Homo sapiens: one gene and its partners. The protein of the gene in region 2 interacts with the protein of the main gene of each other region in a pairwise test. Each region holds a gene or a part of one and is shown on either strand. Other genes may lie near its edges.

Region 1 (3,500 bases), on a different chromosome or scaffold from region 2:
GGCCCGCCCCGGCAGGAGCGACCTGCCTCTAGAGCCAGTCACATGGGTGTTCATCACTTACTTGGCAGGCTTTCCAAAGGCCATGTTGTCCTCCTGTTGAGGGACAAAAGCAGAGGTCAGTGAGGAACTTACATTTGGGCCAGATGACAAACCTGGGTAGGTGGCAGAAGTGCAGTGACTTAGAAGAGGGTATGTCAGGGGTGGGGGGGCCAGAAGTGGGGCCTGGGCCCTGCCCTGGGGCTGGCATGGCATCTAAAGAGCTAGCAGCTGTTCTGCAGGAAGAAGGCAGTGTGGCACAAGTGCACAGAGCACTGCATCAGAGACCAAAGATCTGGGGCTCCAGCTGCCACTGTCCCTTGGTGTGGCACCCAGGAATTCTCTTGCCCTCTCTGGGCCTCATTTTCTCCAAGTTCTCTGGTCAGTCTTCTCTGATCTCTGAGGACCAGCAGGAGGTTTCCATCATGGTCTGGCCTCCTGACTCAACAGTGGTGGCCCACATGGAGACCATCTCCTCGCCCAGCAGTCTGACTGCATTCATAGCAGGGCGGGGGCGCTGGGCCCAGAGGGACTTCCTGTGAGGGAGACACTGCAGTGAAGTCCTAGACTCATCACATTATTCCTGGGGTACAGGACTTACACAGAGACAGACTCTGGGTTCAGATCAGGGAGACCCTGCTGACAGACCTGGTCAATGATTAATCACCATAAAAATATATGATAAAGTAATGGATGTGAAAGTATTTTTAAGTACAAAGTGACAGACCTTTGTCGTGTTAAGATGATCATGACAACTATTAATATAAACAGGTTGGTGCCACCACACCCCTTCAGTCCAGCCTCTGACACCTGGAGACAGGATGATGCATGCTCCTCTGCTGCTAGCCCACTGGACCAGTCTTGGTCACAGCCCCAGGGAACAGACCTGAGAACACAGCTGCTTCATTCTAAAGCCCCACCCCCTCTTCTCCATGGCCACACCCAGGGAACCGAATCAGCCTCCCGTGTCCCCCCACCTTGACTCCCACCTTCTGAAGGTCCAGAGATGTGGTTCCTGGATGGTCTGACTCTCCACTCTTGCCTCTAATCCCTACCCATGTCTCGGTACCCCAGGGGTGGGGGCAAAGGGCTGGGTCAGTTACTTAAGAATCCTTCTGGCCACACTGCCCTCCCGGCCTGTCCTGGAGGCAAGAGAAGGGGGAAAGGGGTCAAACACTGGTGAGGGGCAGAGGGCCAGGGCCAGGACTGCGGGTTATCTACGTTCTCCTGGGTCTGGGGAGACGAAGCCTGCCTGCAGGCAAGACAGGACAGCCTTCCACTTAAACCTTGGAACCCCCCGGGTGGGCAGAATGGGGACTCACTGAGACAAAGTAGGGGCCCGCGAAGTCCCGAATGACTCCTGTGGATGTGCAGATGCCCATGTGGCCGATGATGGGGAAAAACCACCTGTGAGGAAAAGGACGGGGAAGGGACAGAGCTTAGGGGATCTTTCAGCCAGTTAGACGGACGCTGGGGACCCTTCATACAGTACAGAAGCATGTGAATATTACGTTTCATTGACAGGTGGCCATTAGGGTGGTCCAGAAGGCTGGGGAAGCACAGACAAGGGTAACTGCAAACCGACAGCACAATGGGATACCTCAGCATCCCGCCAGGATGGCTGTAACTCAAACGACAGCAACACCAATGCAGGTGAGGGCAAGGGACAACCAGAGCTCTCATTCACTGCTGGTGGGAGGGATAAACTGTTTCTACCTTTTTTTTTTTTTCAAATGGAGTCTCGCTCTGTCGCCCAGGCTGGAGTGCAGTGGCACAATATTGGCTCACTGCAACCTCCGCCTCCCGAGTTCAAGCAATTCTCCTGCCTCAGCCTCCTGAGTAGCTGGGACTACAGGTGTGCACCACCACGCCTGGGTAATTTTTGTATTTTTAGTAGAGATGGGGTTTCACCATGTTGGCCAGGATGGTCTCGATCTCTTGACCTCGTGATCCACGTGCCTTGGCCTCCCAAAGTGCTGGGATTACAGGCATAAGCCACTGCACCCGGCCTACCATTTTGTTTTTGAGATGGAGTCTCGCTCTCTTGCCCTGGCTGAAGTGCGGTGGCACAATCTCAGCTCACTGCAACCTCCGCCTCCTGGGTTTAAGCAATTCTCCTGCCTCAGCCTCCCGAGTAGCTGGGACTACAGGAGTGCACCACCATGCCTGGCTAATTTTTGTATTTTTAGTAGACATGAGGTTTCATCACGTTGGCCAGGCTGGTCTCGAACTCCTGACCTCAAGTCATCTGCCTGCCTCGGCCTCCCAAAGTGCTGGAATTACAGGCGTGAGCCACCGTACCCGGCCTGTTTCTACCATTCTGGAAAACAGTTTGGCACTATACTAAATGCCTCAGCAGTTTCACTTTTGGAACCTTCTTTGCCCTCACCCCTGGGAAATAACATTTGCCAAAACTCATTGAACTGTACTCTTAAAATGTGTACATTTTATTATATGTAAACTATAATTCAATAAAATTGATAAAAACAACTAGAAAGAATCCAAATGTTCAACAACAGTACGATGAATAAGTGTGGTATAGTTATACATTGAAATAGTCCATAACAATGAAAAACAGTGTCACTTCTGCTACACACAACACAGGCTTTCACAGACATAAGGGTGAATGAAGGAAATCTTACACAGAGTACGTAACATAGCACTCTGTTTACGTGAAGTCCAAGAAAAGGCAAGACTGATCTATGGCTAGAGGTCCACAGCGGGGTGGAATCTGTGGTAGAACTGACTGGGAGGGCACAAGGGGGTCCTCTGGGTCTTAGCATTGCTTTCTAGCCCCCGTCTGGGTGGCGGTTACATGAGTGTGTGATATGCAAAAATTCTTCCTGCTGTATACTTGAGATTCGCACACCGTTTGGTACATAAGTTATACCTCAATAAGAAAGTTAAAAAAAAAAAAAAAGGTGGGCGGTCATGACACCAGTATGGGTGGGGGAGTTCAGGAAAGGCTTCCCTGAGGAAATAACAAAGAAACAGAATGTGCAAGGGTAGAAATTGGAACAGAAGCATGGTGTATGCCAGGAAATAAAAGTTCCTTTTTTATAAACCATGGGCATTAAAAAACAACAATAAATCTCAGATGCACCCCAATATGTCACACATAGGAACCCCAGACCTGTCTGTGTTCTGAGAACCATGGCCCTACAGGACCTGGGTGCTGGAGAGACTGATCCAGTTTAAGGAGAACTCACAGGGCCAGTGGCCGAGTCCTGGCCTCAATGCTGCCTGGGCACGAGCATAAAGCACCTGGCTAGGGGTGCAGGCCAAGCCTCCAGAGACGCAGTTTAAAAAAGCAGTTACAGGGGGCTGGGGTGGAGCCAGTAAAGACTTCACAGAGGAGGTGACTTTTAACCTTGACCTGTGAAAGGACACAACATCAACAGGCAGAAAACAACACTGCAGAGCAAGAAAGTGGTACATGTGCCTGGAAGAACGAAAGGGGGAGA
Region 2 (3,500 bases):
CTGCGAGGAGGGGACCTTTCTTCTGCCGCTTGTCTGAGAGAGGTTTCTGAAGCAGAATGTGAGGTTGAGGTCTGCACATAAAGAGCTGCTGTGACTGGGACATATCTTTAGATGTTACAGCTAGCTTTAATTTGCTGGCCTCTACCAGTGTTTACTTAAGCTTATTAACATGCTATGTTTAGAGGCTCACTTAGAACCCCTTTTGTACTCTGGGTCTCTTAAAGCATTGCTGTGATTGGTCTTTATCTTTGGCATTTCCTAGTAGCTTGTCTGTTGTGTATCCAGAACACAGTTACTCTTGTTACAGTCCCATCACATTTTAAGAAGGTGCAGGAGAGAGACAACAAAATGAGGATGTGACTTTTTTTTTTTTTTTTTTTTTTTGAGATGGAGTCTCGCTCTGTCACCCAGGCTGGGGTGCAATGGCGTGATCTTGGCTCACTGCAACTTCCACCTCCTAAGTTCAAGCGATTCTCCCACCCCAGCCTCCCGAGTAGCTGGGATTACAGGCACCCACCATCACGTCTGGCTAATTTTTGTATTTTTGTAGGGCAGAGTTTCACCATGTTGGCCAGGCTGGTCTTGAACTCCTGACCTCAGGTGATCCACCCACCTCGGTCTCCCAAAGTGCTGGGATTACAGGTGTGAGCCACTGTCCCTGGCCGACAATGTGACTCTTGAGACTAAAAGAACAGTTGGGTATGCCATTTCTGGAGAGGACTCCTACATGTGAAAGGCACAGATACTGTTAAGTCCCCAGAAACTTGGATAGTCTGGCATTGGAGTTCACAGAATTGTTTGGGGAAATGAGCTTCCTTGGTAGGTAATTAGAGATTTAAAATGAAATTTGGGCTTCACATTCTAGTAGTGTCATATTGAGTATGAGTGTTGACATTTCGCTTAGAAATGTGGAAGAGTGACTGACTGTTCAGTTAACAAACATTTTAAATGTTTAAGAAAGGGAGGAGGATCATTAGCTCAAGTCAGAAAAATCAAATCTGAAATATTTAGTTTCTCTTTTATTGTATTGAATAATGGGACAAAAATGACATATCATTAACTGAGATTTTTATGCATTTTGAGGTATTAGGAGATAGGAGTACAAAAAAAAACCCATCAGAATTCAGGTAGGTAGCTCTTAATTTTCAGTGTTTTGTATCCTCAGTCATATTTTGCCGTAACTGTGAATATGCCCTCTTACATCTTAAAAAAAAAAAAAAAAGATGGAGATAGATGTAGATACCTTGTCACCATAGTATTCCAAGGTTTTCATACTTTTTTTTTTTTCAGGTACCAGAGAATTTATGGTGGCCATATCAGAGGTCTTCCAGCCTAGATTACTTCTGGTCACTGATCTGTTATTGTCTCTAGCATAATAATAGAAATGTCAGGCCGTTCCTTCCAATAGCTTGTGTTTTCATTAGTCTCAACCTCATCTGTGAATGAGTGATTTGGGGGAAGAATGTGAGAGTCAACAAGCATGTATCCTGACAGGATCAGAAAAGAACAGGTTTGGGTAACTTTTTGGTTTGACTTGTACTCTGAGATCAGAGGAGGGTAAATGAACACTGGAAATGTGTGAACTCCAAGCTCCCTCTCCCACCTAACATGAAGAGATAGTTCAAGGAGGCCTACATAACTGCTGAGCTCTTTCAGTTTTTTTTTTTTTTTTTTTTTTTTGCTGGGGAATCGGGGGTTGTTGGGCTGGACAGGGTCTCCCTCTGTTGCCCAGGCTGGAGTGCAGTGGCACAATCATAGCTCACTGCAGCCTCTACCTCCTGGGCTCCAGCAGTCCTCTTGCCTCAGTCTTCCAAGTAGCTGGGACTAGAGGCACATGCCACTGGGCCCAGCCTATTTGCAAAACTTTTGTAGAGACAGAATCTCAATATGTTGCCCAGGCTGGTCTCAAACTCCTCATCTCTAACAGCCCTCCCGGCTTGGTCTCCTAAAGTGCTAGGATTACAGGCATGACCCACTGCACCTTGACTGCTTTGTGGTTTTTAACAATCTGTGAATCTACATAGTCTATGAATTAGGAATATTGTTTTGGAGCAGTCCACAAGCTGAGTCCCAAGTAGAGATCTCTGTTGGGATCTGCTTTTTGCAGTCACTAGTCTCAGTGAACCATACTGTATTTCTAGGAGGTTATTATAGAATTTGTTATTTCACAAATGAAATGTAAAAATTTTATTTTTGTCCGCCCCCCCAAAAAAATAAATAAATAAAAATGACCCAAAAAAGTGATTAAGGATATACAGCAATTCTGAGTTAGAAGGTTAGGATTTGAGTAAAAAATAATAGAAACAAGAAATGGAAGATGGGGAGCCCATTTAAGTAGAGATATTTGTTCTGTTAAAAAAAATCTACACATCTGATTTCTTTTCTTTTTTTTTTTTTTGAGACGGAGTCTCGCTCTGTCGCCCAGGCTGGAGTACAGTGGCGCGATCTCGGCTCACTGCAAGCTCCACCTCCCGGGTTCACGCCAGTCTCCTGCCTCAGCCTCCCGAGTAGCTGGGACTACAGGCGCCCGCCACCATGCCCACCTAATTTTTTGTATTTTTAGTAGAGACCGGGTTTCACCGTTTTAGCCAGGATGGTCTCAATCTCCTGACCTCGTGATCCGCCCGCCTCGGTCTCCCAAAGTGCTGGGATTACAGGCGTGAGCCACCGCGCCCGGCTACACATCAGATTTCTAATGAAATCTGTTGAGTGAATGTTCCTGATGATAGTCTTTGCAGGGTTCTTGTCTTTGTGAGCCGAGAAGACTCCCAAGGATGCCTTGGTTTATTTACTTCCCCTCTCTTTACCTTTAGTTTTTATCTGCCCTAATTGTATGGTTGAGTGCTTTCTCTCCACTGTTAGCAGCTAGCTGATTTCATTTCTGGTTTTTTTGCAAGCAACAACTGTCACTGCATGATATAGGTTGGGTTAATTTTTCCTTTGAATTTACCGGTGACTTGGGCTCATTAACCAGGCGGTCACAAGTGCTGTACAGTAACAGGCTTTCTGTCCCTGTAGAATGGGATGCTTTGTTTTGAAGTGCCCTTGAGACAATCTTAATCTGTAATAACAAAGGAACCTAGAAATCATGTCTTTGAAAATAGACATGTGGTCATTATTTATGATTATAGCAAACTTTAATTTACTGGTACTAATAGTGAGGCTCCATGGTATAGTTAATCACAAAAGTTTATGTTTGGTTCTGGAATTTCTCACGATGTTTCTGGACACCAATTGCTATTCCAGGGATATTTTATTTAGACTGATCATTTAATTGGATTTTAGTCCCTGACAGAGTGGAGGGACAGTTCACAAAAGGGGAAAAAAAAATCAATGGATATATAAAATTTCACTCTCACAAATAAGAAAAGAATTCAAATATATGTAAATGGAAATTATTTACTAATTTCTATCTTAAGTTTTTTTTTTGGCGGGGGACAGGATCTCACTGTCGCCCAGGCTCGAGAGCAGTGGTGTGATCATGGCTTATTGCAACCTCA
Region 3 (3,500 bases), on a different chromosome or scaffold from region 2:
CATGTTGGCCAGGATGGTCTCAATCTCTTGACCTCATGATCTGCCCACCTTGGCCTCCCAAAGTGCTGAGATTACAGGCATGAGCCACCGCACCTGGACTGTCTTAGATTCTTTAAAGAGATTTGTAACAGTTCCTTCAAAAAGAATTGCATGGTTTCTTATTATTACCTCGAACTTTTGAAGTTATGAATTAACTTAATATGGGGGCTACATGGACTAAGACACAGATGGTTTCCTATTTGTTGACTTACATCCTGCTGATAAGTTTTTGTCTAAGGGCAAGAGTAAGCGAGAAGTAATATTTTTGAGCATCTACTTATGTCATCGTATTTATTCCTTGCCATCCTTTGAGGTACCTATTATCCACAGTTTTATAGGTAGAGAAAGCAGGGCTCAGAACTGTGTAGTAATTTCCCAAAGTTCACAGCTTTGTAGGCTGGCAGATAGTGCTAAGCACTGGTCTGCATGCTGGGACAGGGAGAAGCAGCAGTTGTTGTAGTCATAGTAACAGTGATGATAGCAGTAGCTACCAGGCAGTGAGTCCTCCATGTGTGAGGACCCTTCCTATATGTCATATGGTTTAATCCCTGTGACAGCCCTGCAAAGGCCATGATCCTCATTTTACAGAACAGGAAGCAGCCTCTAAGAGATTAATTATTTGTCCAGTCACACAGCTTTTCAGCAAAGAGCTGATATTCAACCCAATTCCATCTGATCCTAACTTTCTGCTCTAAAGTCAACTTGTTCGTCAGGATTAGCGATAGTTCCCTGATCACAAGAACAAAGTCTGAGGCATGGTAGAAGTAATCTTTTTTTTCCTAATGTTGAATATACAGCTGCCTCCTGACATTCCTATTGAGCCAGAATACAGAATGTTTATTTAATTTTTACTCCTTGTGAGCCTTGGTGGGGAGGAAAGAAACATCAGATATTTCTGCAAGCTTATAAATTGTTGTAGGGTACTTTCTCTTCCAACTGCTCCTGTTAAGACCCACCCAAGGCCGGGCACGGTGGCTCACGCCTATAATCCCAGGACTTTGGGAGGCTGAGGTGGGTGGATCACGAGGTCAGGAGATCGAGACCATTCTGGCTAACACGGTGAAATCCCGTCTCTACTAAAAATACAAAAAATTAGCCGGGCATGGTAGCGGGCACCTGTAGTCCCAGCTACTCGGGAGCCTGAGGCAGGAGAATGGCGTGAACCGGGGAGGCGGAGCTTGCAGTGAGCCGAGATCGCACCACTGCACTCCAACCTGGGCGACAGAGGAAGACTCCGTCTCAAAAAAAAAAAAAAAAAAAAAGACCCACCCAAGAACCCAAACTTAGCTAAGAAAATATCTGAGCACATCCAGAATTAAATATCACAAGTTGTTGGACCAACACCTTCACCATATCTACAGATGAGTCCCTGACACTCACATGGAGCTGATTGACTCTGATTTGACTCGTAATTCTAACAGTTTCTGTTTTCAGCTTAGTCTACGGCAACAAAATAATAGTACAGGACCCACTGCAGATTGGTGTAGTAATACAAGAGATGTGACCAGAGATGAGAAGAAAGAGACCCAAAAAATGATCAGAAGCAGAAATGGGAGCCCAGAAGTGCAGCTGACCAGAAGCATTTCAGTGTCAGATCACACGCAGCCTCCTCTGTAATGAGATCACAGCACGTCTCATCAGTTACTGGTTTTCATTATGGTGACACTGAACACTCATGAAAAGTTAGCATTGAAATATGTTGGTATCTCCAATTTAGAAAGGTAGTGATGATGGGTACAGTGTTTTTACGGGGAAAAAAAGCCAAAAAATGCATTCATGTTTGTCTACTCTTAAAACCCAGCTGTCCAAGAACGATTCCCCAAGGCCCTGTCCATCATTTCTCTTTCTATCCTTGAAGCGCAGTGTCTGACACATAGGATGTGCTCATTGATGCCAGATGATGAAACTTGAATGGCTGGTTTCCTAGGGTTCTGGATAACTCTGTTTTACCGTGGATCCTGGATGTATTCCAGGATGACTTTAAGAAGGCGAGAAGGGGTAAGACCCCTGAGAGCTCAGTGTTTATTCTGTTTTTACACATGGTTAGATGAGATGATACCCACCCTCCTTCAAAAAAAAAAAAAAAAAGCCATTCAATACATGGTAGTTACTCTTATCATTACCATCATCTTTGTCAACACTGACCACGGTTGCTCACTGGGGAAGATGTGAAAAAGAAGTTGGGATCTTCCGCTCCTGGGACACATTTGAAACCCAATAGCTGGAAGCAGGCTGAAGCTATGTAACCAGCTCTCATCCACATGGGCAAGGGTCCCAGGAGTTCTCTGTGGGCTTACAAGCTACCCACCCCCTTGACAACTCCAGTTATTAAAGGTTGAGCCCTGAATAAATAAGTGCCGCTCTCCATAAGAGACAGCCGCCTTTCAGAGAGTTCCAAGCAGCTGGAAGATACTCACGCATGGAGGGTTCTAGGCAGACAGAGGCCGGGCCCCGTGGGCTGCTCCGAGCACCTGGTCGGCCTTCCCAGCACAGGGCTCATTGTTTTACAGGTCACAGCCATTTTGAAAAGGCAGACTCACTGACCTGTTTAATGAGTGCAGTTTCTGCACGAAAGCCCATATCCCTCTCCCAGGCAGCCCCAGAACTTTGCTGGGGAAGGGGGCCAAATCTCTTCTCAGTGCCTGAGGGATTTCTGGCCTTAACTGCTGGTGGAATTAGCAGGAGTTATCTATAAATCCCTGAGGCATCCATCAGCCGACTGAGCGAGGCTGCCTTTTTAAAGAAGTTCACTGACCTCTTGTTAACTTAACTCCTTGTTAGGAAATATCTAATCAGCTGTGAGCTAACACGTCAGGGCCCAGGGGTCTGCAGAAGCCGGGCTCACTGTGGGCTGGGTTTCCAGCTGTGTGCAGTCTGGTGTCTGAGCTGTGGTGTTTTCCTCTTTTCAGCTATCTTTCAGATCATTCAGAGCATAAGGATGGGCATGTGAGAAAGCCAGGGATTTGACACCACCTCCCTCCCACTGGAGGCGGGAGGACAACGGAAGCGGTCAGCCAGTTTCTGCGGGAAACAAGCAGGCCACACGGAATAGAAAAAAACGCTCCCCCACTTGTTCCCTGATCACTTCATCGTGGATGTCAGACCAAATTGCCTTCTCACAGGACATCTTGGTGCATCCGCGTTCTCAAGCGGAAAGGACATTTTGCTTTTCTGTTGGCAGGATTAGTAGCCACGCGGGTCGTCCGCAGCAGTGCTGTTTTTTTGGTTTTTCCCTTGGTTTCACTAATGCGTGCATGTGGCCCTCTGAACGATCACTGGTTTACTTTCTATGGATACAATCTCTCCTCCATTGAGAATTGATTTTACAAATAAATGTCTTCGTTCAACCTTATACCATGTGTGGGTTACAGTGAGAAAACTAAAGTGAAGAAAACAGCAGAATAGCTCAAGGAAAGTTGGGAGGTGGGGAGATTTGGTTATGCAGTTGGAGGAGGCGCAGG
Region 4 (3,500 bases), on a different chromosome or scaffold from region 2:
AAGAGGAAATAAGAGGGAAAAGAGCAATGACAATAGAGTGTTAAGACAGTGTTTTTGAAAACATGGTCTTCAAAACCCTCTGCGATCCATGGACATTCCATATGCAGCACCTCTGAGGCCTAGAAAGAAAGATGCCTGTGGCATTCTCATCTTCACTCCAACCGCATTGAACCTACTTTTATCTGCTTCGTATATGCTGCTTCTACAAAAGATTTCTTTAGAAGAAAAAGGTCTGTTATTAAAAAATATATATTTGAACAAAAGATGGTATAAGTAAATGAGCTAGAAACCAAGTGTAGGATAGATTGAAACAGTCAGCCTTGGAGTAGGGATTCCATTTAACAGGCTGTGGTAATAATTGGTTGAGCAGAATTAAAAACCTGATCTAATAATACAGCTATAAGAATGGAAAGGAGGAATACATGAACAATTTTGATAAGAGAATGAGCTTCAAGTTTGACATCTGGGCATCGGAATACAATGCTAAGCCGTATAGAGATGTGATCATATATAGGATGTCATGGCAAGGAATTTAGAGAAATCAAAATTGACAGACTTCAGGGATGGATAACTGGGACCATATAAATACCACAGGATTTTGATAATGCTCAATTAAGAGGCCACTGGGACACTGATATATAGATGATTAGCAGTCAGAAATGCAAAACTGAGTCTTGGAATAAATATTGGGAATGGGAATATAAATTTGGAAGTCATCCTTATCAAGTGGTAGCTAAAATACTAGAGACAGTGAGACCCCAATGAGAGAATAAATCAGGATAAGAGGGCTGAAGACCAAGACCTAAAAAAAAAAAAAAAAAAAAGCCTACATTTAGAGAGCTGAAGCAACAGGACTTAGAGTCTTCTTTCCTGAGTTGATGATCAGGCACTCATTTGATAACAGTATTTGATAGGCTCAGCAGCATTTATTTTCTAGTTTTAAGAAAATTTGATTATTCTTGTATGAGGTCTAAAGTGTGTATCTATCAGTCCAATCAAGCTTTTAAATTTTCGGAAATACTAAATTTCTAAATCATAAAGCGTCATTTAAAAATAATTAATTGTTTCAGTCCAAAAATAGCGTGGGTCAAACTGGAATTTTCAAAGTGACATATCTGTGGATGATATGCTTATGGTACCAAAAAGACTCTCAAAAACCAATACTCCCACGGGCAAGGGAATAGCCAAGTTTGTTGCGGTTTCCAATGAATGACATCAGCCCTGTGTAGGTCTCAATCAAAATGGGTTCAGTTAACACCATCAGTTTCTTTCCTCTTCCAGATCCAGTTGAATTCTTGTGGGCATTCTGGATAGCTGGAACAAGCTTAGACATGAACCCAGACAACTGAAGAAGAAAAAAAGAAGGCACAAAGTTAGTTACTGTAGATTAAGTTGAGAGATACTCATCTCCCCAGCCAGTCTTCACAGAAGTTGACTACTCTCCTGGGGCTGCAGTTATTCTTACTTCTTAAACATAAATGGTTAAATTTATCTCTATTAAGTTAATTCAGTTAATAACTGTGCTTAAGTCCATTAAGACTAACTTTCCTCAGGCCCAATTTTGCTTCTTAATGTCAGAAATAATATGTAATTTTTTCAGTTTGTTTATCATCCACATAAGTCTACCAAGTACCATTTTAGTTTTAGCTGCTTTAATATTTTGTTAGTATACAAATAATTTGCATCGGTATTAGTACTGTAAACTGACTCTCTTTGTCACTAATAGATGAAAGGGCATCTGAAATTACTTAAGAAATATTGATGAAGCGCCTACAACAAGTTCCAGGGACATTTTAAGTTGAACAGACAGGCAAAAAAACCCCGCTGTCATGGAGCTCACATTCTCGTGATTGCAGACAAAAAATATTCATAAAAATTTTGAAGGTGATAAATTCTAGAAGGAAAATAGAATGTGGTAAAGGGATAAAAAGTAATGAAAGTTAGAGTTACTTCACATACTGTATTCAGGGCAAGTCTTTCTGAGGAGGTAAAACTTCAACTGAGACCCATACAATGAAAAAGAGCTAGTTACGTGAAGAAGAAATTCCAAGCAGAAAACACAGCACCTGCAAAAGCTGTAAGGGAGGCATGAATTTAGCTTCTTCAAGGGACACAGAAAACGCCTTTTAGACAGAAGTCTAGTGATCAAAGGAAAGAGGTTGAAGCACTAGGCATGAAGAGTCTTCAGGGCCATATTAAGGGCTTTGGATTGATGTGATTTTAGGAAGGAGTTCAATGTTGTATGCTGTTATTTTACAAATAATAATAATCCTAGCTACTGTGTGGAGTCAAAAATAGAATGCTCTTAGGGCTAAGAATGGAAGCAGGAAGACAAGATGAGTTTGGAGTTCACTTCAGGAGTCCAGGCAAGATACGACGGTGGCTTGGACAGTGTAGCAGTAGAGACCATCGGAACTGGTTAAATTAGGGATTTGGGGGGCAGGGGGTTCAAGCCAAAGAATGTGTTGGTGTGATTGAATTTAGGGATGAAGAAATGAGAAGGAAAAAAATGACACCCAGGTTTTTGGCCTGAGCAACTGGGTAGATAGCGATATTATTATTGAGTTGAGAAAGCCTAGGAGAGGTACAGATTGGAAATGGTAAGATACAGGGATGGAGGATTTTGTTGCAGACACGTGGTTTGAGTTACCTCACCAGAAATCCTCTTAGAGATTTTCAATAGGCAACTGGATATAGAATCTGGGACCATGAAGAAATATACAGATAAAAAGTCCATGTCTATAAATTTTTCATAATAATAATCACAGACCCAGAAGTCAAGAATGATATTCATAAAGTGAAGTTAATAGCCTAAACATGATAGGATATGGGACAGAGAGTAGGAATTAAATTCAGGAAACTCTTGTTGGATAAGATACTAGGCATTGTGGGCAATGTAGAGGGGATCTGGTAGGTAAACTGAGGATCTAAATGTTACAGGGATCTACCCAATACCAAATAACTAGTAAATGATTGAGCAAGGGCTTGGACTCAGGTCTCCTGACTTAACTCCTGAAGTCCTCTCTTTATAACATTGCTGTTATGAGCAGGAATTATAAAATTCTAATTTTTAGAAAATTTAGTTTTAAAATTCTGATATTTAGGGAAGAATTCATGTTCCTCATTTGCAAAAGGGAGAAAATATTACATTCATTAATTTTTAAACCATGTTCTTTAGAACACTAGATCTCTTCACAGATTGGGTGGGTACATATAATTTATCATCCAAATCTAAATTCTCTGGAAAAGAAAGGAAGTGCTATGTGAATAATGTTGGGACAGCAGGTACCTGAGGCTTCGAGGAGAGGATGTCAACAAAAAGCCAAAAGCCAAGCAGGTAACTTATTTTAGTCTCTTCAATCACATCAGAGCTGCTCTATTTTTATGATCAGTTTTATATATTTGAGTTCCAAGTAAGATTTTACTTCTTTTTAAATGAAAATCACTTGCCTAGGAAACTTCAGCTCTGGCAATCAATGATTTAATCCAAAAAGATCTAT

The links.
Region 1: the proteins of RETREG3 (region 2) and TMEM222 interact in binary tests that used the Homo sapiens proteins (3 or more experiments, as listed by UniProt).
Region 3: the proteins of RETREG3 (region 2) and SERP2 interact in binary tests that used the Homo sapiens proteins (3 or more experiments, as listed by UniProt).
Region 4: the proteins of RETREG3 (region 2) and TPRG1 interact in binary tests that used the Homo sapiens proteins (3 or more experiments, as listed by UniProt).

The regions. Positions count from the first base shown.
Region 1 is NC_000001.11:27,328,663-27,332,162, reverse strand, and holds part of TMEM222 (transmembrane protein 222), read right to left. Parts: intron 1,449-3,500; exon of another isoform or gene 1,444-1,448; coding exon 1,359-1,443; intron 1,179-1,358; exon of another isoform or gene 1,026-1,178; intron 923-1,025; exon of another isoform or gene 94-922; coding exon 62-93; intron 1-61.
Region 2 is NC_000017.11:42,602,875-42,606,374, reverse strand, and holds part of RETREG3 (reticulophagy regulator 3), read left to right. Parts: intron 1-3,500. UniProt on the Homo sapiens protein: Endoplasmic reticulum (ER)-anchored autophagy regulator which exists in an inactive state under basal conditions but is activated following cellular stress.
Region 3 is NC_000013.11:44,394,324-44,397,823, forward strand, and holds the end of SERP2 (stress-associated endoplasmic reticulum protein 2), read left to right. Parts: intron 1-2,948; coding exon 2,949-2,989; 3' UTR 2,990-3,391; downstream 3,392-3,500. UniProt on the Homo sapiens protein: Interacts with target proteins during their translocation into the lumen of the endoplasmic reticulum. Protects unfolded target proteins against degradation during ER stress. May facilitate glycosylation of target proteins after termination of ER stress.
Region 4 is NC_000003.12:189,318,471-189,321,970, reverse strand, and holds part of TPRG1 (tumor protein p63-regulated gene 1 protein), read right to left. Parts: intron 1,346-3,500; coding exon 1,151-1,345; 3' UTR 1-1,150.